7 linked regions of the Homo sapiens genome follow. The protein of the gene in region 6 interacts with the protein of the main gene of each other region in a pairwise test. Each region holds a gene or a part of one and is shown on either strand. Other genes may lie near its edges. The genes, in order: ZNF366, RBM42, RBFOX2, NPPB, CCL28, PSMA3 and PWWP2B.

Region 1 (3,500 bases), on a different chromosome or scaffold from region 6:
TCTTCATATGCTCTAAAATGCACTTTTGATTCCTTTCCCACATATAAAGGAGCCCCTGAAGTTAGCGAATGGTCCCCTTTACGGCTGAATCCCAGTCTGGGTCCTTTGTTGATGGTTCCTGCACTTGGCAGGCGACTCCCCTCTGGATAGTATCTACAGGTACCTTTTGTAGGGCAGGAGCTGTTTGTGCAGAGCCCACAAGGCAGCCACACATTTCATCTCTGTGGCAGAGCCAGAAAATACCCTGTGTTTTGTCCTAACCTAAGAAGTGAAACGTATTATAGCACAGCAGAAACATTATCTTGGCTGGGCAAAGTCCTCTCCTGACCTTTCAGAATTAAAGAATGCTTTAGAAACTCTGGCTTGCTAGAAGTCTTTCCTGCCAAGAAAACCACTTGAGGTTAAGGGTGTGAGAGTGGGAGTCAGTGGGGGCAAAACTCCCTCTCGGAGGCTCAGAGCAGGTTCCATACTTTAGCTGGGGTAAGATTTCAGGAACACCACTAGGGCCTTGTTTTAGTTCAGCCTGAATGACTCCAGGGCTATGGTTGCAAACTGGGCTGAACTCAGACTCTTGGGCCTGTATTTCCCCTTGAAGACCTGAGCACAGAGAAGATCAAACAAAACCAAACAGAGAAGGATGCTTTCTCATGCCTCCTACAATGTAAACCACAGGGCACTTCACCCAGCTAGGCACGGGTCCAACGCAGGGAGGTATAGGCCCTGCCGGCCTCAGCCAAGCTCTGCTTCCCTTGGAGAACTTGCATATGAAGCAGGTCTCACAGTTGAGGGAGAAAACAATCCAAAAAGTTTTCCACTGCTTCAACAGTACAAGACGAAGAGAATTATCCAGAAGGTGCTCCCTGGCACATCCCAGGCACAGAGCTGATCTAGGGTCTGATGACTTACTCATGCTAGTGCCTTGGATGAAGTTTCTAGAAACCGAATCTGCAAGATTCTTGGAGGCTAGGGAGCATCCTTCCTCATCTCCTCTGCAAATGTCTGCATTATTTATTTCTAGGCCTACCTTAGAGTCTAGAAGGCTGCTGGGGCAAAGGGCTTGGTCGAGAATCGTTCTCTCTTATTTAAACGTGAGGAAGGACCTCAGGGCTCGGCCAAGGGACCGCTTGTCCGGGGTTGCCCACCTCCTCGGGGTAAGGTGCAGAGCGGCACAGGCGTCCTGCTCCCCAGTGCTCTGCTCAGGGCCCCGCTCCTCTTCCCAAGGCCCCGTCCGCCCCACCAGAGGCCCCGCAGTACCTTGTGGGTGAGGGAGTGCTGCTTGAGGTGGTGCGGCTGCACAAACTCCATGCCACACTCTGAGCAGATGTAGGGCCGGATGTCCTTGTGCTTCATCATGTGGTTCTGCAGCTGGCTCGGGTACTGGAAGGTCTTGTCGCACTCGGAGCAGTTGTACTGGATGGGGCCCCGGTGCGTGGTGAGGTGTCTCTTCAGCTGGGCCAAGGTGGGGAAGTCGAGGCCGCACTCCACACAGATGTTCTCGCGCCCACTGGCGTGCTTGGCTTCGTGGGCCTTGAGCTCGCTGGGGTAGGCAAAGCCGCGGCCGCACACGCGGCAGTTGTGCGGCTTCACCTCGCTGTGCTGCATCATGTGGCGCTTCAGGTGGCTGGTCTGGGTGAAGGCCTTGTGGCACACCTGGCACTTGTGGGGCCGCGTGCCCTGGTGGGTCAGCATGTGGGTATGCAGGTGGCTGAGCTGCTTGAAGAGCTTCCCGCAGTGCGTGCACGCGTGCGGCTTGATCCCACTGTGGCCCAGGATGTGGGTGACCAGGTTGTACTTGGAGGTGTAGGACTTCTCGCAGGTGGGGCACTGCCAGCGCTTCTGCGAGCCGCCCACGTCCACGTAGTAGCTGTCATCGATCTGCACGTTCACGTCCACCCTCTCCACCTTCTGCTTGGTCTCCTCGCTCTCCTGGGGCTCGGCTTTCCGGGGCAGCAGAGGTTCCGGGGGCTGCTTGGGCAGGAAGGTGTGCCGGCTGAAGGGGAAGGGCGAGGACGAGGGCACGAAGAAGGGGAACATGAGGCCCGGGTGGACTTTGGGGTAGTAGGGGTAGGGCGTGGGCAGGAATGGAGTGGGCGTTGGCTGGGGCCACACGGCGCTGGGCTTAATGGGTTCCTGCTTGACGGGCTTGCCCCCAAAGTGTTCCAGGCTGCGGTAGAATTGGAAGCCCACGTTGCACAGGTCGATCATCTGAGAGTCATACTTGGGGCGCGGGGGCTGCGGGAACAGCAAAGGGAGGTTGGGAAGGCCGTGGTTTTTGTTCTCCTCTGAGTGGAGGGCGAGGGTGACTTCTTCTGCAGGGTGGTTATAGGGCATCTTTGTGGGCATGCTCTTCCGTTTCCTAGACCCTGCTCCTTCGAAGACCCCGGGGAACCCATCTAGGTCTCCTGGGGGAGGTTCATACCGAAACTGGGAAAATGGCCCTCGGAGAGCTTCCGGGAAGGGGTGTCTTTGGGGAGCCTTTCCCCGAGAAGCCACTGGCTGCAGGCAGTGGGGAAAGGAGGGGGTCTTCTTCACAGCCAAGTCGAAATGCACATCCTCGTCTTTGATCATCTTCATTTCCTTCTGCATCCTTGGCAATTTTCCTTTAAAGAGAAAGAAACTTGTGTGTTTTGGTTTGGTTTTGTTTAAAATTCTCTTTTTCCTTAAGGATTATGGCTATTTATCAGTACTAATTTATGAAGAGTAGTACTTGCTTAATATGGACCCTCATTTATCCTAGGGCTGTTCAAAATATCGCTTTTCTTTCTCCTTGCAAACCCAGTTATCAATATGGATAGCACTGGCCTCTTGGGGTGACCCTAGGGCTGAATCAAATTGGGCTCCAGTGTAAATCCAGCCACAAAACCACAAGGGGTGATGGTAGCAAGGGAAGTGGACTAGTTTGGGAAGAAACCTGAGAACTCATCTGGCCATTGTCCCCATTTAAGATCAGGGTACCAAAGTCCAGATAAATGAAATGACATTCTCAAGTTACATAGGTACTCACTGAAGGAGTGAGCACTAGACCCATTCTGCTGCAGCTTTTCAATCTGAGTTGTAATTACATCTACTAATGGTGATTGGAAAGTGACTTTTAGGGTCTTTTCTTTGTGTAAGGAAACCAATTTTCACTGCTACTCCCTTGCTTGGGCCTTTGCTGCTGGAAAATGAGGATATTCAAAGCCTCATAGGAGAAGGGATGTTAATGCTTAACTCAGATCTAATCGTTTCTGAGTATCCACTCTGAGTAAGGTGTGCTACTAAGGCATAGGGAGTGAATGACATAAACATGATTTTAAAAAGCATATTGAGTAGCTCAATGTTATAAAGTCATCCTGGCAATGTACACATTCCACTCTTAAACCTGAAGCAAGCTGGAATGAAATATTCCTTTATTATGTGAAATAAAGCCGCACATGGGTCTCTCCTTTCAGACAGGTGTCAAAGTAAGGGGCAGGCTTGGTGACTCCTGTGGTGCCTGACATGTCCCCTGCTGACACAGC
Region 2 (3,075 bases), on a different chromosome or scaffold from region 6:
TAGGACATTACTTCCTTATATGTATGAAAAGGATGCGTGTTCTTACTTGGATGTAAAATTCTGGTATAATCTCGGTTAAACCAAACGTGCTACTTATGTTACCTAAATCCTGTTATACTTATTAATCTGATGATCTCTGAGAAGTTGTAATGTCTCTTACTTTTTAGTATGGTTTTGATCAAAATGCAAATCTGACCTACTTCCCCTGCCCAGCTTCCAACCCTGCTGTGGCTCCCCAGTGCCCTCAGGAGGACACCCATGGCTCAGCCAAGAATGCTGTGCTTTAAGAACAAAAAAGCTCTACTGGGGTGCCTGCTGGCTGCTCAGCCCTTCTCATGACACTCTCTAAGCCCCACTACTTCTATTACAGTTACACTAAACTGAAAAGGGAAAGGTTTTGCTTATAAATATTCTTCCTGCCAATAATATTCCCACTCACCCCTTGCCTAACACTTCATTGCCCCTTGGGTCTCAGCTCACAGGTCCCTTTCTCCAGGAAGCCTTCCCTGGGCCTGGCTGGGTCAGAGGGCTCCCCTCTCTTAGCACTGATCCCACTGCCTGGGCTTCCCTGCTTCCAGCGCTGGTCCCCACTGGCTCTCCTTCTCTAGTGATGTCTCCATTCCCTCCTCCTCTGGACCAGGAGCTCCCTGAGAACCCTGGGTCTGTTGGTGTGTCCCCAGCATTGCCTGCCACAGGGCTGAGCCAGAGGAGCTTCTCAGTGGTAAATTTTCATGGAATGAACCAGGGGAGAGGCCCCCACATCTCCAGGAGGGCTCCCCAGACTCTTCTCCAGGATTTCTTGATGCTGAGAGTGCACACACACACACGCATGCACACACACACCTTGTCCCAAGTGCCCCTGTCCCCCATGACACACACCCCCATCTCTCTCTCCCACAGCTGTGGCCCCCCAGAGGGCCCCTATCCTGCGTCCAGCCTTCGTCCCCCACGTGCTACAGAGAGCAGGTGAGGGGCCAGGGTCATCATCCCTGCCACATAACTCCCCCCAGGCCCTGGAACTCCCCACTAACACCCTGACAGATTCCGCTCTCTCCTCTGCAGCAGCCGGCCCCCGCCCTATGGCCCTACGGCCCCCTCACCAGGCCCTCGTGGGCCCCCCTCTGCCTGGGCCCCCTGGACCACCCATGATGCTGCCACCAATGGCTCGGGCTCCAGGGCCCCCGCTGGGCTCCATGGCTGCACTGAGGCCCCCTCTGGTGAGTGTGAACAGGGAACTAACGGTCAGATGTGCGGTGGACGGGGAGACCATCCATCCTGGCCCAATGGGCTATGTCTGAGTTGGCCTCTCTCCTGACTTTCTGTTTCTCTACCTTCTCACTCTGCCTTTGTCTCTGTCTCTTTCTGCATCTTTCTGTGGCAAAATCTGTTCTCTCCTTTTGTGAAGGGAGTACAGAGAGAAACATGCTATTGGAATATTTCTCTTTTGATTGTTACTGATGTTCTTGTCTGTGGCTGTCTCTCTCTGCCTGTGTTTCTCCTTCTCTGTGTTTGTCTGGCTGGAGACTCTCTGCTTGGGTGTCTCTTGGCTGCTCTCTGGCCCCCAGGCCCTTTCTTTGTTGGATGGAATGGAGATGACAGTAAAGTCTGAGCCTGTGAGCCGGCCCCCCTCATGCTCTCCTCTTACCCACAGGAAGAGCCAGCAGCACCCCGAGAGCTGGGCCTAGGCCTGGGGTTGGGCCTGAAAGAGAAGGAAGAGGCAGTGGTGGCGGCGGCGGCTGGGCTGGAGGAGGCTAGCGCGGCTGTGGCCGTGGGGGCAGGAGGTGCCCCAGCTGGCCCTGCAGTCATTGGGCCCAGCCTGCCGCTGGCCCTGGCCATGCCATTGCCCGAGCCTGAGCCCCTGCCCCTCCCGTTGGAGGTCGTCCGCGGCCTCCTGCCCCCGCTGCGCATTCCTGAACTCCTGTCCCTGCGTCCTCGGCCCCGGCCCCCTCGGCCAGAGCCACCCCCAGGCCTCATGGCTCTTGAGGTAAGCAGGGAGCCTAGCGGTGAAGGGACAGAAGGGACGGGGGGCAGACAGGAGCCCAGGAACTTCCACACAGACAGACCGGACAGCAGGAGGACCTGGGGGAGGGAGGCGGACACATGTGCCCCACATCCAGAAGCACATCCAGCCCTTACTGTGGTGGCAGGAGGGCCGGGGACCAAAGGACAGTGGGAGACCCCAATACCAACCCCTTTGCACCTCTCCCCTTTCCTCTGCAGGTCCCAGAGCCCCTGGGTGAAGACAAGAAGAAGGGGAAGCCAGAGAAATTGAAACGGTGCATTCGCACAGCGGCAGGGAGCAGCTGGGAGGACCCCAGCCTGCTGGAGTGGGATGCAGGTAAGCTGCTGAAGCTCGAGGTCAGGCGTGGCTCGGCCAAGGTCAGACCAGGCTGCTGTCCTTGGGCTGCAGACTGGGAGGGTGAACCCTCTCAGTAGGGTGGGCGCTGTTGTTAGCCCACCTTGGGGAGGGGAGGCTATGGCTCAGGGGCTGGTTCTTCACCTAGCCATGGGCCGGAGCTTGGTGGAGGTGACGGGGACATGGGGCTTTGTAGCCTGTTTTACTCATGAGGTGCCTGGCTTCAGAGAGCATTCTTTTTTTTTCCCAACTCTTAGGATAAAAATTTTTTTTTTTTTTTTTTATGAGACAGAGTACCACTCTGTCGCCCAGGCTGCAGTGCAGTGGCGCAATCTTGGCTCACTGCAGCCTCCGCCCCCCAGGTTCAAGTGATTCTCCTGCCTCAGCCTCCCAAAGTGCTGGGATTACAGGCATGAGCCACTGTACCTGGCCGGGAAAAATTTTAAACACAGATGGCACAGTAAACACCCGTCTACCCACCACCTAGATTCTGCAATTAACATTTTGCTGTGTTCACTTTTTTCCTCTTTGTGTATGTATCTGGTTTCTTTGTTTTTAGCTCAGTCATTTGAAGCAAGTTATAAGTGAATTAATCACTTCTAAATATCTCAGTATTTATCTCCTAAGAAAAGAGATATTTTGGCCAGGCACGGTGGCTCACACCTGTAATCCCAGCACTTTGGGAGGCGGAGGCAGGTGGATCACTTGAGGTCAGGAGT
Region 3 (3,500 bases), on a different chromosome or scaffold from region 6:
TTTTCATAACATATTTTCTAAGAACTAAAGAGAGGGGTTTTTTTTTTTTTCTATCTTTTGAGATGGAGTCTCACTCACTCTGTTGCCCGGGCTAGAGTTTAATGGCAGCGATGTCAGTTCACTGCAATGTCCTCCTCCTGAGTTCAAGCGATTCTCCTGCCTCAGCTTCCAAGATATCTGAGATTAAAGGCATTTGGCACCATGCTTGGCTAATTTTTGTATTTTTAATAGGGATGGAGTTTCACCATGTTGGCCAGGCTGGTATTGAACTCCTGACCTCAAGTGATCTGCCCGCCTCAGCCTCACAAGGTGCTGGGATTACAGAAGTGAGCCACCACACCCAGCCTTTTTTTTTTTTTTTTTTCCCTTAAGAGACGTGGTCTTTCTGTTGCCCAGGCTAGGGTGATGCAATCATGGCTCACTGCAGCCTCCAGCTCCTGGGCTCAAGCAGTCCTCCTTTCTCAGCCTCACAAGTAGCTGGGACTACACATACCACCATGCCCAGCTAATTTTTTAAAGTTTTTCTAGAGACAGGGTCTCTTTGTGTTGGCCAGGCTGATCTTGAACTCCTAGCCGCAGGCAGTCCTCCCATCTCAGCCTCCCAAAGTGCTGGGATTACAAGGGCATGAACCATTATGTCCAATAGCAGGAAAATTTTTATGTAAAGCAATTTATTTTTATTTTTATTATTAATTTCTGTTACAGAATCTTCATTCCTGCCTTTACCAGTTTGCAAGGGCTGCCATAAGAAAGTATTACATAACAATATAGCAATGTATTTTCTTACCATTCTGGAGGCTAGAAGTGCAAGATCAGGGTGTCAGCAGGGTTGGTTTCTTCTGATGTCTTTTTTGTTGGCTTGTAGATGGTCATGCTCTGTGTCTTCACATGGGCCTCCCTCTGTATGTGTCTGTATCCACATTCCCTTTTCTTATAAGGACACCACTCCAATTGGATTAAGGCCCACCCTCATGACATCACTTTAATTACCTTTTTAAAGACCTTATCTTTAAAAACAGTGACATTTTGAGGTACTGAGGGTTAGAACTTCAACATACGGGTTGGAGACTGAGCACAACTCAGTCTATGACTCTGCCCCTTCCCACTGATAACTGTAATCAGTTCATCACTTTTTATCTAGACTGTGGCAGCCCCCCACCCCCAATTCTCTGCCTTTTTTCTTTCACCACTATTGTGTAAAGCAGTTTTTATTACCAAGTAGAAATGATTCTTGGACATTGGAGACAGCTGAATTTTGAAGTTGTTTAACTTTTAAATGGAAGAGAGTTATGAATTTTTGTTTCAAGGTAGGTCACTACCATTCTCTTAAGAGTAACACAGTAATTCAGTGTTTCAGAATATTGGCTTCCCCTTATTGATGATATATTTTTTGTCATTCTCTTTAGTATTAAAAACAATATATTTGTATAGGTTTTATTACAAAAGTAATATATGTTTATTATTGGGGCACAAGGAAACTTTTGGGGGTTTTGGATATATGTGTTGACTATCTTGATTGTGGTGATGATTTCATGAGAATATAAGTGCATATATCAAAACTTACCAAATTGTATACTGTAAATAAATAAGTGCTGTTTATCATATGACAGTTATATCATAATAAAACTGCTTAATTTTTTTGCTGATTTGATGACTAAAGACTTGGACTTACTTTGATGTTAATGTGAATTTTCGTGACAGTTAGTGAGGTTGAGCATTTTTATTAGTTGTTTGTATTTCATTTTCAATGAATTGTTCAGATACACAGTTTGCCTGTTTTTCTCTTGGGATGTGTGTGTGTTTGTGTGTACATGTGTGTCTGTCTTGTCAACTTGGTTAACCCACTCTGGGACTAGTGATAATAACCCAGCATCTCTCTTACCTTTTGCTAATATTTTCTCCTAGTTGATTTTTCTTTTTTGTTTTTCGTATTTTTTAGGGACAGAGTCTCTCTCTGTGGTATAGGCTGTAGTGGCTTGTGGTCCAAAGTGGGCTCTCCACCTACTTTTAATTTAAAGGAAAGATTTTTGCCCCTTTGGCATCTAGTCCACTTAAATATGGTTGTGGGCCTGTCTAGTAACTACACATTAACAAAAGTGAGTGTGTGTGTGTGTGTGTGTGTGTGTGTGTGTGTGTCTGTCCACATACATATATCTATGTGTGTATGTGTAATAATATTTTCTCCAATCCTGGAGCAATAAGCATTCCATTTTACCTATGCAGTGAGAGAATATTCAGAGAATTCCATATACTCACTTTAAAAATAGTTACGTAACAAGGATTCAAAGTCACTTTTTCTTTCTCTTGTTGTTTGTTTTAGGGTAACCAGGAGCCGACAACAACTCCTGACGCAATGGTTCAGCCTTTTACTACCATCCCATTTCCACCACCTCCGCAGAATGGAATTCCCACAGAGTATGGGGTGCCACACACTCAAGACTATGCCGGCCAGACCGGTGAGCATAACCTGACACTCTACGGAAGTACGCAAGCCCACGGGGAGCAGAGCAGCAACTCACCCAGCACACAAAATGGATCTCTTACGGTACGTGGACCATGAGGTGAAAAATGGAAGGATGCATGGCAATCATATAGAAATTGTCGCCTTAATTATACAATTAGAAGACTCTCGGAATTAATTTAGCATTTACACCTGTTCTCATTTACACCTTCTCTCAACAGCATTGTATACATTGTCCTCCCTCCTCCTAGAAATACTTAGTCTCTTGGCTTTTCGAGCTCTCCCAATTTTCCTGCCAAGCACTGGGTGTTCTGCTCCTGCCTCCTTCTCTGTTCAACTTTTAAATGGTGCAGTACTCCATATGTAGGTCCTGGAACCCCTTTTCTTTTTATTTTATATCCTTTCTCTGCATAATTATACTACCAAACTCAAGCAAAACCTAGGAATATTCTTTCTTTCTTTCTTTCATCTGTACATCTAATTGATTAGCAAGTCTTGACAACCATAACTCTAAAACTACTTCGTCTTCTTCTCTACATCTTATTACTCTTCCACCAAATTGCTTGTGTTTGAATCTCAATATGGCCCCTACTAAACTGTGTGACCTTGGACCAGTTATTTAATCTCTCTGCCCTTGGCTCACTCTAAAATGAAGATAATAGTACCTACCTGAAGAGGCTGTTAGGAAATTTAAAAGAATTTATCATCATCACTGCTCTAGTCCAAACCTCATCACTTATTTCCGGTATTACTGTTGCCTAACTTATCTATCCTCCACATAGGACTAAGGTGGTTTTTTTTTTTTTTTAATGCAAATGCCGATTTCCTACTTAACTCTTAATAGTTCCCTAATGCAATTAGAATATAATCTGAACTCCGTACTTGGTTTACTAGTCTCTAGCCCCAGCTTACCTCTTTGACTTCACCTCTTACTACTAACTTGCTAAAGTAAAGGAAATGTCATAAATTAATAATAGGTATATATCTCATACATACCAACATATGGGAAATTGTATTGTCTCTTGCTTTGTTGTCCAGG
Region 4 (3,157 bases), on a different chromosome or scaffold from region 6:
CCAGGCTGGAGTGCAGTGGCGTGATCTCAGCTCACTGCAACCTCCACCTCCTGGGTTCAAGTGATTCTCCTTCCTCAGCCTCCCGAGTAGCTGGGACTACAGGCGCCTGCCACCATGCCCAGCTAATTTTTGGTAATTTTAGTAGAGACGGGGTTTCACCGTGGTCTCGATCTCCTGACCTCGTGATCCGACCGCCTCGGCCTCTCAAAGTGCTGGGATTACAGGCGTGAACCACCATGCCCAGCCTATCCTTTTGTTTTCCATCCTGTGTTGGCTTGGTGGGGGAGAGGAGGTGTTGACACGTGGAGGACACACATATAAGGCATTCTTGGGTGACTTCGTCATCACTGGACCCTATCTCTCAAAATTCCAGCGAAATCTGCTCTTCCCTTTAAGGAGTGAAAGAAGGGTCAGCATTCCAGAAGTTCCTGGTCATACCCAGGCTTTTAATGAATTGCCACTGGGGAATCAGCATCCCGTTGCTGTAAGGACTATAAGATGGCGGATTGTGAGAGCATAGGGAAAGGTCTCGGAGGTCTCTTGTCCTTGCTCCACGCAGGTCTTTCTGGCCTGAAAATCCCGTTGAAGAGAGCAGCTCTTGAGAGTTTGCTCCAAGTTCCCTCGGGGTGATCAGCACCACGGACAGCGGCCAGGGCGCCCCCGAGGACCCGCAGGCAGGCAGGGTGCACAGCGGCGAGCAGGTGCTGCGCTACGTGCGGGCCAGGGAACTCGCGCGGGGAGGGGAGAGGCGCCGCGGGTGGCGGGGTCTTGGCCGGGGCTGTTTTCGCTGTGAGTCACCCCGTGCTCCCCGCGCTCACGTCGGTCCTCGGAAAGCCGGGGTCCTCCCTGCCTTTTCCAGCAACGGTGGGGTGGGGAGGCAGGAAGAAAGCGCCAACCTAGGACACCTGGACATTTGCAGGAAAGGAAGAAGCGGGAGACGGGGACTTGTCTGTGTCTCCAGCGCGTTCCTGCCCCCCGGCCCGACCCGGCCCATTTCTATACAAGGTCGGCTCTGCCCGGTCTCCACCTCCCACGTCGCAGGCGCGGAGGGGCTCATTCCCGGGCCCTGATCTCAGAGGCCCGGAATGTGGCTGATAAATCAGAGATAACCCTGCATGGCAGGGCAGGCCCGACACTCAGCTCCAGGATAAAAGGCCACGGTGTCCCGAGGAGCCAGGAGGAGCACCCCGCAGGCTGAGGGCAGGTGGGAAGCAAACCCGGACGCATCGCAGCAGCAGCAGCAGCAGCAGAAGCAGCAGCAGCAGCCTCCGCAGTCCCTCCAGAGACATGGATCCCCAGACAGCACCTTCCCGGGCGCTCCTGCTCCTGCTCTTCTTGCATCTGGCTTTCCTGGGAGGTCGTTCCCACCCGCTGGGCAGCCCCGGTTCAGCCTCGGACTTGGAAACGTCCGGGTTACAGGTGAGAGCGGAGGGCAGCTCAGGGGGATTGGACAGCAGCAATGAAAGGGTCCTCACCTGCTGTCCCAAGAGGCCCTCATCTTTCCTTTGGAATTAGTGATAAAGGAATCAGAAAATGGAGAGACTGGGTGCCCTGACCCTGTACCCAAGGCAGTCGGTTCACTTGGGTGCCATGAAGGGCTGGTGAGCCCAGGGGTGGGTCCCTGAGGCTTGGACGCCCCCATTCATTGCAGGAGCAGCGCAACCATTTGCAGGGCAAACTGTCGGAGCTGCAGGTGGAGCAGACATCCCTGGAGCCCCTCCAGGAGAGCCCCCGTCCCACAGGTGTCTGGAAGTCCCGGGAGGTAGCCACCGAGGGCATCCGTGGGCACCGCAAAATGGTCCTCTACACCCTGCGGGCACCACGAAGCCCCAAGATGGTGCAAGGGTCTGGCTGCTTTGGGAGGAAGATGGACCGGATCAGCTCCTCCAGTGGCCTGGGCTGCAAAGGTAAGCACCCCCTGCCACCCCGGCCGCCTTCCCCCATTCCAGTGTGTGACACTGTTAGAGTCACTTTGGGGTTTGTTGTCTCTGGGAACCACACTCTTTGAGAAAAGGTCACCTGGACATCGCTTCCTCTTGTTAACAGCCTTCAGGGCCAAGGGGTGCCTTTGTGGAATTAGTAAATGTGGGCTTATTTCATTACCATGCCCACAATACCTTCTCCCCACCTCCTACTTCTTATCAAAGGGGCAGAATCTCCTTTGGGGGTCTGTTTATCATTTGGCAGCCCCCCAGTGGTGCAGAAAGAGAACCAAACATTTCCTCCTGGTTTCCTCTAAACTGTCTATAGTCTCAAAGGCAGAGAGCAGGATCACCAGAGCAATGATAATCCCCAATTTACAGATGAGGAAACTGAGGCTCAGAGAGTTGCATTAAGCCTCAAACGTCTGATGACTAACAGGGTGGTGGGTGGCACACGATGAGGTAAGCTCAGCCCCTGCCTCCATCTCCCACCCTAACCATCATCACCCTCTCTCTTTCCCTGACAGTGCTGAGGCGGCATTAAGAGGAAGTCCTGGCTGCAGACACCTGCTTCTGATTCCACAAGGGGCTTTTTCCTCAACCCTGTGGCCGCCTTTGAAGTGACTCATTTTTTTAATGTATTTATGTATTTATTTGATTGTTTTATATAAGATGGTTTCTTACCTTTGAGCACAAAATTTCCACGGTGAAATAAAGTCAACATTATAAGCTTTATCTTTTGAAACTGATTTGTCTTGGCGCATTAAAAATAATCCCTCATTTCAAAGAAACCAACCCAACTAAAACCACAAAGCCCTGTGATCTCAAGGCATCTTCATGGTGGGATGAGGATGTGGCCTCAGAGGTAGCAGGCTTTCTTTTCTTTCAGAGTTTTTAATGCTCTGAAATGTTATTGAATATCTCAAGCACTTGAGGCACTTGGGAGAAACTGCTTTTCAAAGCAGGGCAGGATACGTGTGCAACCTGAGGGCACGTATCCAGCCGTTTTCTCCACTCGTCCTTGCTCTGCCTGGAATTCCACCATTAAAGCACTCTCCCTGGGGATTATTGCTTTCAGGTCTCAGCTAAAATGTCAACGACTGGGGGCAGTGTGTGTGGGTGTGGCTCATCTACATTCCCATACCGGGGTGAGCCCTCCATCCTGCCCCAAATATCAGCTTTGAAACTCCAATTCCTGGGGTCATCCTGCAAAGGAGCCTTCAAAACTCCAACCC
Region 5 (3,500 bases), on a different chromosome or scaffold from region 6:
TTTTCTAGCTTATTTGCATAGAGGTGTTTATAGTATTCTCTGATGGTAGTTTGTATTTCTGTGGGATTGGTGGTGATATTCTCCTTATCATTTTTTATTGCGTCTATTTGATTCTTGTCTCTTTTCTTATTTATTAGTCTTGCTAGTGGTCTATCAATTTTGTTGATCTTTTCAAAAAACCAGCTCCTGGATTCATTGATTTTTTGAATGGTTTTTTGTTTGTCTATCTCCTCCAGTTCTGCTCTGATCTTAGTTATTTCTAGACTCCTGTAGGCTTTTGAATGTGTTTGCTCTTGCTTCTCTAGTTCTTTTAATTGTGATGTTAGGGTGTCAATTTTAGATCTTTCCTGCTTTCTCTTGTTCACATGTAGTGCTATAAATTTCCCCCTACACACTGCTTAAAATGTGTCCCAGAGATTCTGGTATGTTATGTCTTTGTTCTCATTGGTTTCAAAGAACATCTTTATTTCTGCCTTCATTTTGTTATGTACCCAGTAGTCATTCATGAGCAGGTTGTTCAGTTTCCATGTAGTTAAGCAGTTTTGAGTGAGTTTCTTAATCCTGAGTTCTAGTTTGATTGCATGTGGTCTGAGAGACAGTTTGTTATAATTTCTGTTCTTTTACATTTGCAGAGCAGTGCTTTACTTCCAACTATTTTGGAATAAGTGCAATGTGATGCTAAGAAGAACGTATATTCTGTTGATTTGGGGTGGAGAGTTCTGTAGATGTCTATTAGGTCTGCTTGGTGCACATCTGTGTTCAATTCCTGGATATCTTTGTTAACTTTCTGTCTTGTTGATTTGTCTAATGTTGACAGTGGGGTGTTAAAGTCTCCCATTATTGTGTGGGAGTCTAAGTCTCTTTGTAGGTCTCTAAGAGCTTGCTTTATGAATCTGGGTGCTCCTGTATTGGGTGCATATGTATTTAGGATAGTTAGCTCTTCTTGTTGAATTGATACCTTTACCGTTATGTAATGGCCTTCTTTGTCTCTTTTGATCTTTGTTGGTTTAAAGTCTGTCTTATCAGAGACTAGGATTGCAACCCTGTTTTTTTTGTTTTCCATTTGCTTGGTAGATCTTCCTTCATCCCTTTATTTTGAGCCTGTGTGTGTCCCTGCACTTGAGATGGGTCTCCTGAATGCAGCGCACACTGATGGGTCTTGACTCTTTATCCAGTTTGCCAGTCTGTGTCTTTTAATTGGAGCATTTAGCCCAATTACATTTAAGGTTAATATTGTTATGTGTGATTTTCATCCTGTCATTATGATGCTAGCTGGTTATTTTGCCCGTTAGTTGATGCAGTTTCTTCCTAGCATCGATGGTCTTTACAATTTGGCATGTTTTTGCAGTGGCTGGTACTGGTTCTTTCTTTCCATGTTTAGTGCTCCCTTCAGGAGCTCTTGTAAGACAGGCCTGGTGGTGACAAAATCTCTCAGCATTTGCTTGTCTGTAAAGGGGTTTATTTCTCCTTCACTTATGAAGCTTAGTTTGGGTGGATATGAGATTCTGAGTTGAAAATTCTTTTCTTTAAGAATGTTGAATATTGGCCCCTACTCTCTTCTGGCTTGTAGAGTTTCTGCTGAGGGATCAGCTGTTAGTCTGATGGGCTTCCCTTTGTGGGTAACCCGACCTTTCTCTCTGGCTGCCCTTAACATTTTTTCCTTCATTTCAACTTTGGTGAATCTGACAATTATGTGTCTCAGAGTTGCTCTTCTTGAGGAGTATTTTGTGGCATTCTCTGTATTTCCTGAATTTGAATGTTGGCCTGCCTTGCTAGGTTGGGGAAGTTCTCCTGGATGATATCCTGAAGAGTGTTTTCCAACTTGGTTCCATTCTCCCCGTCACTTTCAGATACACCAATCAGACGTAGATTTGGTCTTTTCACATAGTCCCATATTTCTTGGAGGCTTTGTTCATTTCTTTTTATTCTTTTTTCTCTAAACTTCTCTTCTCACTTCATTTCATTCATTTCATCTTCCATCACCATACCCTTCCTTCCAGTTGGTCGAATCGGCTACTGAGGCTTCTGCATTCGTCACGTAGTTCTCGTGCTGTGGTTTTCAGCTCCATCAGGTCCTTTAAGGACTTCTCTGCATTGGTTATTATAGTTAGCCATTCATCTAATCTTTTTTCAAGGTTTTTAACTTCTTTGCCATGGGTTCGAACTTCCTCCTTTAGCTCGGAGTAGTTTGATCATCTGAAGCCTTCTTCTCTCAACTTGTCAAAGTCATTTTCCATCCAGCTTTGTTCCATTGCTGGTGAGGAGCTGCGTTCCTTTGGAGGAGGAAAGGCACTCTGATTTTTAGATTTGTCAGTTTTTCTGCTCTGTTTTTTCTCCATTTTTGTGGTTTTGTCTACCTTTGGTCTTTGATGATGGTGACGTACAGATGGGGTTTTGGTGTGGATGTCCTTTCTGTTTGTTAGTTTTCCTTCTGACAGTCAGGACCCTCAGCTGCAGGTCTGTTGGAGTTTGCTGGAGGTCCACTCCAGACCCTGTTTGCCTGGATATCACCAGCGGAGGCTGCAGAACAGCAAATATTGCAGAATGGCAAATGTTGCTGCCTGATCCTTCCTCTGCAAGCTTCATCTCAGAGGGTCACCCGGCTGTATGAGGTGTCAGTCGGCCCCTACTGGGAGGAGTCTCCCAGTTAGGCTACTCAGGGGTCAGGGACCCACTTGAGGATGCAATCTGTCCATTCTCAGATCTCAAACTCCATGCTGGTAGAACCACTACTCTCTTCAAAGCTGCCAGATAGGGACGTTTAAGTCTGCAGAAGTTTCTGCTGCCTTTTGTTCAACTATGCCCTGTTCCCAGAGGTGGAGTCTACAGAGGCAGGCAGGCCTCCTTGAGCTGCAGTGGGCTCCACCCAGTTCGAGCTTCCTGGCCATTTTGTTTACCTATTCAAGCCTCAGCAATGGCAGACGCCCTTCCCCCAGCCTCACTGCCGCCTTGCTGTTCAATCTCAGACCGCTGTGCTAGCAGTGAGCGAGGCTCTGTGGGTGTGGGACCCTCCAAGCCAGGCATGGGATATAATCTTCTGGTGTGCCGTTTGCTAAGACCATTGGAAAAGCGCAGTATTAGGGTGGGAGTGTCCCGATTTTCCAGGTACTGTCTGTCACGGCTTCCCTTGGCTAGGAAAGGGAATTCCCCGACCCCTTGCACTTCCTGGGTGAGACAACGCCCTGCCCTGCTTCAGCTCACGCTCCATGGACTGCACCCACTGTCTGACAAGCCACAGTGAGATGGTCCCAGTACCTCAGTTGGAAATGCAGAAATCACCCGTTTTCTGTGTTGCTCACGCTGGGAGCTGTAGACTGGAGCTGTTCCTATTCGGCCATCTTGGAACCGGCACACACCAATTTTTTAGAACAGAAACAGGATCACAATCTACATATTGTCTTAACACATATTTTAATCATAGATAACAGTATATCTATTCAACACAAAAAGTTAATTCTGAAAATCTGCATCTTCATCTTACATAAAACATTTAAACTTCC
Region 6 (3,662 bases):
ATAGCAAGGTTTTAGAAGACCCTCCAAAAAGTAAGGTATGTAACTCAGTGCATAGTATTAGATAAAGCTATACTCTGCTACTGTACTTAATTTGATACTTTTTTTTTTTTGAGATGGAGTCTCACTCTGTCGTCCAGACTGGAGGGCAGTGGCACGATCTTGGCTCACTGCAACCTCCGCCTCCCGTGTTCAAGCAATTCTCCTGCATCAGCCTCTCAAGTAGCTGGGATTACAGGCGCCCACCACCACACCTGGCTAATTTTTGTATTTTTAGTAGAGACAGGCTTTACCATCTTGGCCAGGCTGGTCTTGAACTCCTGACCTTGTGATCCACCCACCTTGGCCTCCCAAAGTGCTGGGATTACAGATGTGAACCACCGCACCTGGCCTCTTGATACTTTTTATGTTACTTTAATATGTTGCATGACAGTGCCTCCTTCTTTGCTGTAATTTGTAAGGTACTACAATGTGAAGGCCAGGTTATGTGGCATATATGCCATTATAAAATGGACAAGGAGCTTAAAAAGACTACTGCCAAGAAGCTATAGGTTGAAGAGACCACTAATAATTGCAAGCACATAAATTAGTTTTTTTTTTTTTATTTTTTTGAAACAGAGTCTCACTCTGTTGCCCAGGCTGGAGTGCAGTGTCGTGATCTCAGCTCACTGCAGCCCCTACCTCCTGGGTTCAAGCAAGTCTCCTGCCTCAGTTTCCCGAGTAGTTGGGACTACAGGCCTATGGCCACCTCACCTGGCTAATTTTTGTATTTTTAGTAGAGACGTGGGTTCACCATGTTGGCCAGGATGGTCTCGAACTCCTGACCTCATGATCCACCCGCCTCTGCCTCCCCAAAGTGCTAGGATTACAGGCACGAGCCACCATGTCCAGCCAATTAGTTGGTTTTAAATATATTTAAGTTAATGGACAAAATATTCTAAAAGGGCACAGTTAATGACGCCTCTTCCTAGTGAATCCGTGTTCTTTATGAGGTATCTTTTATAGTTGTATCTTTTTTTTTTTCTGAGATGGAGTCTCGCTCTACTGTAGCCCAGGATGGAGTGCAGTAGTGTGATCTTGGCTCACTGCAACCCCTGCCTCCCGGGTTCAAGGAATTCTCCTGCCTTAGCCTCCTGAGTAGCTGAGATTACAGGCGCCCACCACCACACCTGGCTGATTTTTGTTTCTTAGTAGAGACAGGGTTTCACCATGTTGGCCAGGCTAGTCTCGAACTGACCTCAAGTGATCCATCCGCCTTGGTCTCCCAAAGTGTTGGGATTACAGGTGTGAGCCACTGTGCCCAGCCAAGTTATATCTCTAAAGCAATGTGCAAAAATAAACTGAACTTGGGTTGATTAGGTATATTCAACATTTGTCGGGAGAGTAGATGTTTCATTTTATTTCAGTCCCTGTGTAATTTGTCTTCTCTAATGTTAAATACTATGTAGAATGTGTCTGTGTAATTTTATAGATACTTTTATTATGGATGGACATTCTAATTTGTACTGACTTTGGGTCTGTGAACTACTTCAATGTTTGGAGGTTACCAAAATCTTACCTTTCCCTTTTCTATTCTAGAATTTACATAGTACATGACGAAGTTAAGGATAAAGCTTTTGAACTAGAACTCAGCTGGGTTGGTGAATGTAAGTTATTTTTGTACATTTATTTGCCTTAGGAATGATCTGTACCACAGCTAATTTACAACTGAGTGTCCTTTCTAATATAATGAAAGCTAAAGCAAATTTACTAGGTTGTCTAATGAAGGGAAAGTTCTGCTTAATAATTGACTTAAGTTGTGAACACGTTATTTTTTGAAACATCCATTTCATGGTTTTAAGATACTATGCTATAAATTAATGCTCAGGATTTATAAATAGCATAATTTACTTTCATTTCCATAAGAACTTAATATGTAGGCACATATAATCTCATGTAGAAGCAGCACACAAAAATATTCGAGTATTACTCATAGTACAACTTTGCAACCTTAGGTGAGTCAGATATGTGGATTGGGTAGATCCTATGGTATACTGCAAGTTACAATATGGTACTCAATTTAAAATTCATTTACACATGTGGCTTAATTTACAGTAACTAATGGAAGACATGAAATTGTTCCAAAAGATATAAGAGAAGAAGCAGAGAAATATGCTAAGGTAAGCCACAGCACAAAAACTTCTCTTGGCCAGGTACAGTCAGGGAATCACTTAGCCCAGGAGTTTGAGACCAGCCTGAGCAGCACAGCAAGACCCCCATCCCTAATTTAAAAAAAAAAAAATTCTCTAACCAAAATTATGTGTTGAATAATATAAATAGACTGGGGTGGTTTCTATGAAATAACACTGAGAGTTCAGTTGAACTAAAGATAGAAATTTTCTAGGTTATCTCTAGTGGGTAAAGTTGCCTTGGTTCCAAAAAAAAAAAACTTGGGAGGTTTAGACTGCAAAGAGTTTTTTAGGACTTTTAATACTTTAAATATTTGTTCTTTTTTTTTTTTTTTTTTTTGAGACGGAGTCTTGCTCTGTCACCCAGGCTGGAGGGCAGTGGCACCATCTCTGCTCACTGCAACCTCTGCCTCCAGGGTTCAAGCGATCCTCCTGCCTCCGCCTCCCAAGTAGCTGGGATTACAGGAACATGCCACCATACCTGGCTACTTTTGTATTTTTGGCTTCACCAATAATACAGAGACGGGTTTTCACCAGGCTAGTTTCAAACTCTTGAACTCACGTGATCTGCCTACTTTGGCCCCCGTAAAGTGCTGGGATTACAGGCATGAACACTGCACCAGGCCTCTTAAGTATATATTCTATCAAAGATACAGTCATTGCATGTTAGAGCAACATTTGCTTAATTAACTTTGCTTGGGTATCTTATTCTGAAACTGTTCATTCAGTTACAAGTAGAGGAATTTAACCACTTAATTCAGGTTGTTGTAGCTTAACTTGCCCACAGGTGTGGGATATAACAATTTTAAAAATCAATTTTAAACACCTGTTTTCTCTTAACAGGAATCTCTGAAGGAAGAAGATGAATCAGATGATGATAATATGTAACATTTACTCCAGCATCTATTGTATTTTAAATTTCTACTCCAGTCCAATGTAACTATTTAGCCCTGGATTATACATACTGTCCAATTTTCATTAAATTTTTGTCTTATAACTATTGAAGTTTGGTTAATATCTGCTTTACAAAATTGGTGGGGGTAAATGAGGACATTTACTCAGTATTAAAATATAGATTTATGACTACTGAAAAATTCCCTGGTTAAAATGCTGCAGAATTAATTCCAAGACTGTAGATTAATTCAAAGCCCCATCTTCATCACTCAACTAGAATTTACAGATCATATTCTCCTGGGCTTTTGTACAAAAAGCACCTACCAACTTAGTGGACAAATAACTGATACGGTTTCCCACTTTCATATGAAGTAACTGGTGGTCATCAGTCACTGTTAATCTTTAGATGTGATACAGATGACAGATGTTTCAGTTTTGGATAATTTTTCAAAAACTGACCCTTCTCAAAAAAGACCCTTCAATACATGAGTCAAGGATGTTTTTGCTTTTTTCCTTTATTGTGGTGAGGGGCGGATTTAAGGATCAATAAAGTCCCTATTCTGTCACTAAAAAAATTTCTTGATCTCTAAAGATTAAAATAAA
Region 7 (4,226 bases), on a different chromosome or scaffold from region 6:
GGTGTGGTTCACAGAGGACAGTCCCCTGACCTTTCCAGCAGTCTGTGTCTGGAACCATAGGCAACCCACAACTGGGGGAGGCCGATAAATACCAGCTCAGAGATGGAGCCAGGAGGCTCTGGTGGGGCAGGCCAGCCCTTCCGCACTCGGAGCCTCGTCTGTCCTCAGGCCACCCCTCAGCCAGGGCCACCCCACCCAAGATCCTCAACCAGAAGCATGTCCCCAAATCACCCACAAAACAACGCAGGTCAGGACAAGGCTTGTGTCATCGATGCTCTGGAAGGAACCACCACCACATTGGCCCAGACTGGGGGAAGATCACTGGAGGCCGCCTGCTCCGGGCTCAGCCCACTTCCTGGCACACAGTAGGTGTGCAGTGAACTCACCCAGATGTACACGCAGGCTGACACTCAAGAGAATCTTGCTTCAGATCACATGGCCCTTGTGGCACAAGCCAGGCAATTCCACCCACCTGCCAAGCCCCTCTCCCCTCTGCTTTGCAAGCAAGGGAGAGAATGCCATCTCCCAAACCGGCCGACAACAAACGCTGGCTGCTGGGCCCACCTCAGCCCTGCATCCCGGCGCCTGTGTGAGCGGGGCCGCCATTCCCGTGGGATTGCTCTGAACAGGTGCCTGGCTGCCCGCCGCCTGCGCTCAACAGCGCCGGTTGTGCTGGGACCCACAGGTTCCCTGAGGTGGGCGGACACCTGTCATAGGGCTCCCAGCAGCTCTTCCCTGTGAGTCAGCACCCACACTTGGGGACTGGGCCTCCACTGTCACATGCAGGGGATAAGGGCGGGCACCACGCCCTGATGAGAAACTGGCACCTGGGGAAGGCAGGTCAGCACCCTGCGGTCCGAGGCAGGGCTGGAAACAGGAGCCCTGGGACTCGGAATACAAGGGCAGAGAACCGGCTGGAGACTCAGGCTCAGGGGAGATGAGGGAGGGGGCGGGGGTCCTTCCAGGACAAGCCTCAGGACTGGGGCTGGGGGAGAGGAGAACAGCCGGACAGACTCAGGCACAGGGGAGATGAGGGAGGGGGCAGGGGTCCTTCCAGGACAAGCCTCAGGACTGGGGGTCGGGGAGCCTGCTCTACCTTCAGATTCCCCACAAGGACAAGGGGGCCAGCCCAAGGCAGCAAGGTTGGCTGCTAAGTGGCTGTGCCCGCAGAGGCCCAGCGCCCGGCTCCGTGGGCGGCTCTGGTTACAGCTGAACGTGGCAGGCAGGGTTGACACCCATGCATCCTACAGCTGCCAGTTCCCACGCCGGGGGTCCCATCGGGCCTGGTTTTTTCCATGAAGGGGAGGCGGTGGTGTAGATTTGCAAACCAGGTTAGCCATGGGCCTCAGGGAGGAGAGCCCGAGGCCACTGCAGATATTCTCAGCCTCCCTTGTCCCGAGTCAAGGAACCTGGGAAATGGGGCAACCCACTGCCGCTCGTGCCCCTCTTCAGGGAGGAAAGGCCAGGCAAGGTGGTGCAGGTCTGGCAGGGGTGCGGCCCTGCTGACCAGGACCAAGCCCAACCCTGCCCGCCAGAGGAAGCTGAGGCCGATGGTGGAGGGGATGGCAGCTCCCAGGTGGCGATTCTCACCCCCCGAGTGTCCCTCCATCCTGCCCGTGCACTCCCAGCGGTAGCCCACACGGAGCGGGCAGGAACCACACGGGAGCCATATGTTAAATCACGTGACTTGTGGATAAATGGCTTCTGGCACATCTAATGAAGAGATAACGTCTGCGAAATAATTGTGGAAGGAACACGGTCCTCTCTGCTAATTCATGTCACCAGGCAAAAATCTGGGCTCCACGGATGGAAAAAGTTGGGCCTTTACAAGAGGAGCCTTTCCCTGCTCCCAGTTTCAAAAGAAAGCCCTGCAGGAGCGCAGCGAGGCCACAGCCTGATTCATGCCTAATCATTGATCTGGCAGCGACAGCTCCCTGCCATGTGACGCGGTGTCCAGGAGGCTCATCTGCACCGCATGGGTCCCTGCAGCCCGTGCACAGGTGCCTCTCAGGAGGAACCGCCCCGCCCTGCCCTGCGCCCCCCACCCAGGAAGCCAGGGCTCCCGGGGGATGTGCCCACGGCTCCCACAGCTTGTACCTCTTCACGCCCCCATGACTCAGGGCTCCCTGGCCTGAAACTGTTCTTAAATCGCACAGCTGGGCGCAACTGCTCTCCCCGAATCCAAACCTCAGCCGCGGAGTCACTCCCAGCAGCCAGGGGCCCGTGGCCTTCGACAGGGCACCCCCACCTGTGAGGAACTGCCAGGGCAAGGCCACGGCGCATCTGACCCTCCCCTGCTTTAACGACAATTCTGCCAACAGTCGAATTCAACAGTGGCTCTGAACAAAGAAAAGTGCATTAATTATGGCAGATGTGTGGAGTTCCGGGACCCCGGCCCCGCGCCCCCCGCCCCGGCCCGCCCCGGCCCGGCGCCCGCCCCGAAAAGTCGCGACGACTTTGAGAACCACTTTTGCCCCCCCGAGTGGCGGCCGCGCTCGCGCGCCCCGAAACTCAGGCTCGGCAGAAACCGAAAGCGGGCGCCGGGGCCACGCCACCCCCAACCCGGAGGCGGGTCCCGGGTCTCCGGGCGGCGGAGGCGGGTGTCGCGTGGGGACCCCGGGGGTGTCCCGGCCCGCGCCCCCGCTCACTTTTTCGTGCAGTCCAGCAGGATCCCCGCGAAGCTCCGCTCGCCGCAGCTCACCGTGACCACCAGCGCGCCGTTGACGACCTGCTCCACCCGCACCGGCAGCCGGCAGCCGGCGCGCGGCTCCATGCTCCCGCCGCGTCCCAGGCCGCCCCCGCCCCGCCGCCGCCGCCGCCGCCGCCGCCGCCGCCGGGTCAGCCCCGCGCGTGACGCCGCCCCGCGGCCGCCTGACGTCACAAAGCTCCGCTGGGGCGGCCGCCACAGCCGAGCCGAGCCGGGCCGGGGGCGCGCGGCCGCGGGCTCCGCTCCCGGGGACCCCGCCCGCCGCCGCCGCGTCCCGGGAGAAGCCGCGCCCGCCCGCAGAGGTCGGCCGGACGCGCGGTGCGGACCCCCGGGCTGGAGAGGGGGCTGCGCCCGGGCTCGCGGCCCACGCTGGCCGGGAGTGTCCCCTGGCTCGGGAGGACCCGAGAGCCACGAGCCCGGGGGCGGCGGGGGGGACACCCGCCGCGGCCGGAGCCCCGGGACCCCATCCCCCCGCTCCCCTGCCTGGGGCCGGTCCCGGGCCCCCCTCCCCCTCCGGGCCCAGCCCTGCGCCCTCCCTCCCTCCCCGGTGGCCCGGATCCTCCCGCCTGGGGTCGGCCGCCCGCGTGTCCCGGCAGCGCCCCGCGCTGGGCTCTGGTGGCCCCGGGCACTGCGGCGAGGAAGTCCCGGGCGGCGCGCGCAGGAAGCCGGGGCAGGCGGAGGGGACGCGGGGCGCCCGGGGGCAGCGGCCTAGTGTCGCCCTCGCCGCGTGGGGGGCGGGACACTGGGTCGCCCCACTGGGCTCGGCGCCTCTCGGGGCGACAAGCGGGCGCGCGCCCGGCTCAGGGCCACCCTGCGCGCCTGGGGGTGGCCGGCACCGGGGCCCGGGGGGTTAACTCCCTCCGGAGGTCTCGGGCGTGTCTCTTCGGGTTGCCGGGCCCAGGGGCCAGGCGCGCCTCCGCCAGTTTACAAAGGAAACAGCCTCCTTCCCCCGCGGCAGGGGCTCCCCGACCCGCGGGCGAGGAGTGGGAGGTGACGGCGCCGGACCCCCTTCCCCCAGGCGCCCGGCTCCCGCGCCTTCAGGCGTCAAAGCCCCCGACTTCCCCGAGCACCAGCACGTCCGCACCCGGCTCAGAACGCAGGGGCCCGGCCTGCTGCGGTGACCTTGGCCCCGGGCCGGGCTTCTGAGCCGGACTTGCAGCGCCTGACGAGGCCTGGAGGCGGGGCGGGGGACCGCGTAGTTGTCCTGGCGACCCAGCGCCGCCGGGCAGGGCTCCTCCCAGCCTGGGAATTGAGGACCACCGCCCCTGGTGCCACTGGGGACCGTCGGGTCGCTGGCGCCTGTCGACCTCGCCCTCCGGCGGCCGCGCGGCAGTGGGAGCCTCAGAGAGGAGCCAGGGCGGAGTGAGGGAGCCCGCGGGGCCTGGGACACCTGACCGTCCGGCTAGAACAGGGGTAGGGACCGAGGCCGAATGAGCCAGAGTTCTGGCCGGGGACAGTCCCAGAGGAGGCCTGGAAGCCCAGTGAGTGTCTGTCCTCCTCTGTGTGGCCTGGGGCTCCC

What was found.
Region 1: the proteins of PSMA3 (region 6) and ZNF366 interact in binary tests that used the Homo sapiens proteins (3 or more experiments, as listed by UniProt).
Region 2: the proteins of PSMA3 (region 6) and RBM42 interact in binary tests that used the Homo sapiens proteins (3 or more experiments, as listed by UniProt).
Region 3: the proteins of PSMA3 (region 6) and RBFOX2 interact in binary tests that used the Homo sapiens proteins (3 or more experiments, as listed by UniProt).
Region 4: the proteins of PSMA3 (region 6) and NPPB interact in binary tests that used the Homo sapiens proteins (3 or more experiments, as listed by UniProt).
Region 5: the proteins of PSMA3 (region 6) and CCL28 interact in binary tests that used the Homo sapiens proteins (3 or more experiments, as listed by UniProt).
Region 7: the proteins of PSMA3 (region 6) and PWWP2B interact in binary tests that used the Homo sapiens proteins (3 or more experiments, as listed by UniProt).

What each region holds. Positions count from the first base shown.
Region 1 is NC_000005.10:72,458,911-72,462,410, forward strand, and holds part of ZNF366 (zinc finger protein 366), read right to left. Parts: intron 2,601-3,500; 5' UTR 2,587-2,600; coding exon 1,255-2,586; intron 1-1,254. UniProt on the Homo sapiens protein: Has transcriptional repression activity. Acts as a corepressor of ESR1; the function seems to involve CTBP1 and histone deacetylases.
Region 2 is NC_000019.10:35,632,036-35,635,110, forward strand, and holds part of RBM42 (RNA-binding protein 42), read left to right. Parts: intron 1-900; coding exon 901-966; intron 967-1,041; coding exon 1,042-1,217; intron 1,218-1,651; coding exon 1,652-1,984; intron 1,985-2,220; coding exon 2,221-2,338; intron 2,339-3,075. UniProt on the Homo sapiens protein: Binds (via the RRM domain) to the 3'-untranslated region (UTR) of CDKN1A mRNA.
Region 3 is NC_000022.11:35,808,825-35,812,324, reverse strand, and holds part of RBFOX2 (RNA binding protein fox-1 homolog 2), read left to right. Parts: intron 1-2,320; coding exon 2,321-2,545; intron 2,546-3,500. UniProt on the Homo sapiens protein: RNA-binding protein that regulates alternative splicing events by binding to 5'-UGCAUGU-3' elements. Prevents binding of U2AF2 to the 3'-splice site.
Region 4 is NC_000001.11:11,856,964-11,860,120, reverse strand, and holds NPPB (natriuretic peptides B preproprotein), read left to right. Parts: upstream 1-1,175; 5' UTR 1,176-1,287; coding exon 1,288-1,419; intron 1,420-1,651; coding exon 1,652-1,907; intron 1,908-2,449; coding exon 2,450-2,466; 3' UTR 2,467-2,657; downstream 2,658-3,157.
Region 5 is NC_000005.10:43,402,392-43,405,891, reverse strand, and holds part of CCL28 (C-C motif chemokine 28 isoform a precursor), read left to right. Parts: intron 1-3,500. UniProt on the Homo sapiens protein: Chemotactic activity for resting CD4, CD8 T-cells and eosinophils. Binds to CCR3 and CCR10 and induces calcium mobilization in a dose-dependent manner.
Region 6 is NC_000014.9:58,268,843-58,272,504, forward strand, and holds the end of PSMA3 (proteasome subunit alpha type-3), read left to right. Parts: intron 1-1,575; coding exon 1,576-1,643; intron 1,644-2,091; coding exon 2,092-2,156; intron 2,157-3,008; coding exon 3,009-3,053; 3' UTR 3,054-3,162; downstream 3,163-3,662. UniProt on the Homo sapiens protein: Component of the 20S core proteasome complex involved in the proteolytic degradation of most intracellular proteins. This complex plays numerous essential roles within the cell by associating with different regulatory particles.
Region 7 is NC_000010.11:132,395,774-132,399,999, reverse strand, and holds the start of PWWP2B (PWWP domain-containing protein 2B), read right to left. Parts: upstream 2,801-4,226; 5' UTR 2,774-2,800; coding exon 2,649-2,773; intron 2,405-2,648; exon of another isoform or gene 2,098-2,404; intron 2,072-2,097; exon of another isoform or gene 565-2,071; intron 1-564. UniProt on the Homo sapiens protein: Chromatin-binding protein that acts as an adapter between distinct nucleosome components (H3K36me3 or H2A.Z) and chromatin-modifying complexes, contributing to the regulation of the levels of histone acetylation at actively transcribed genes.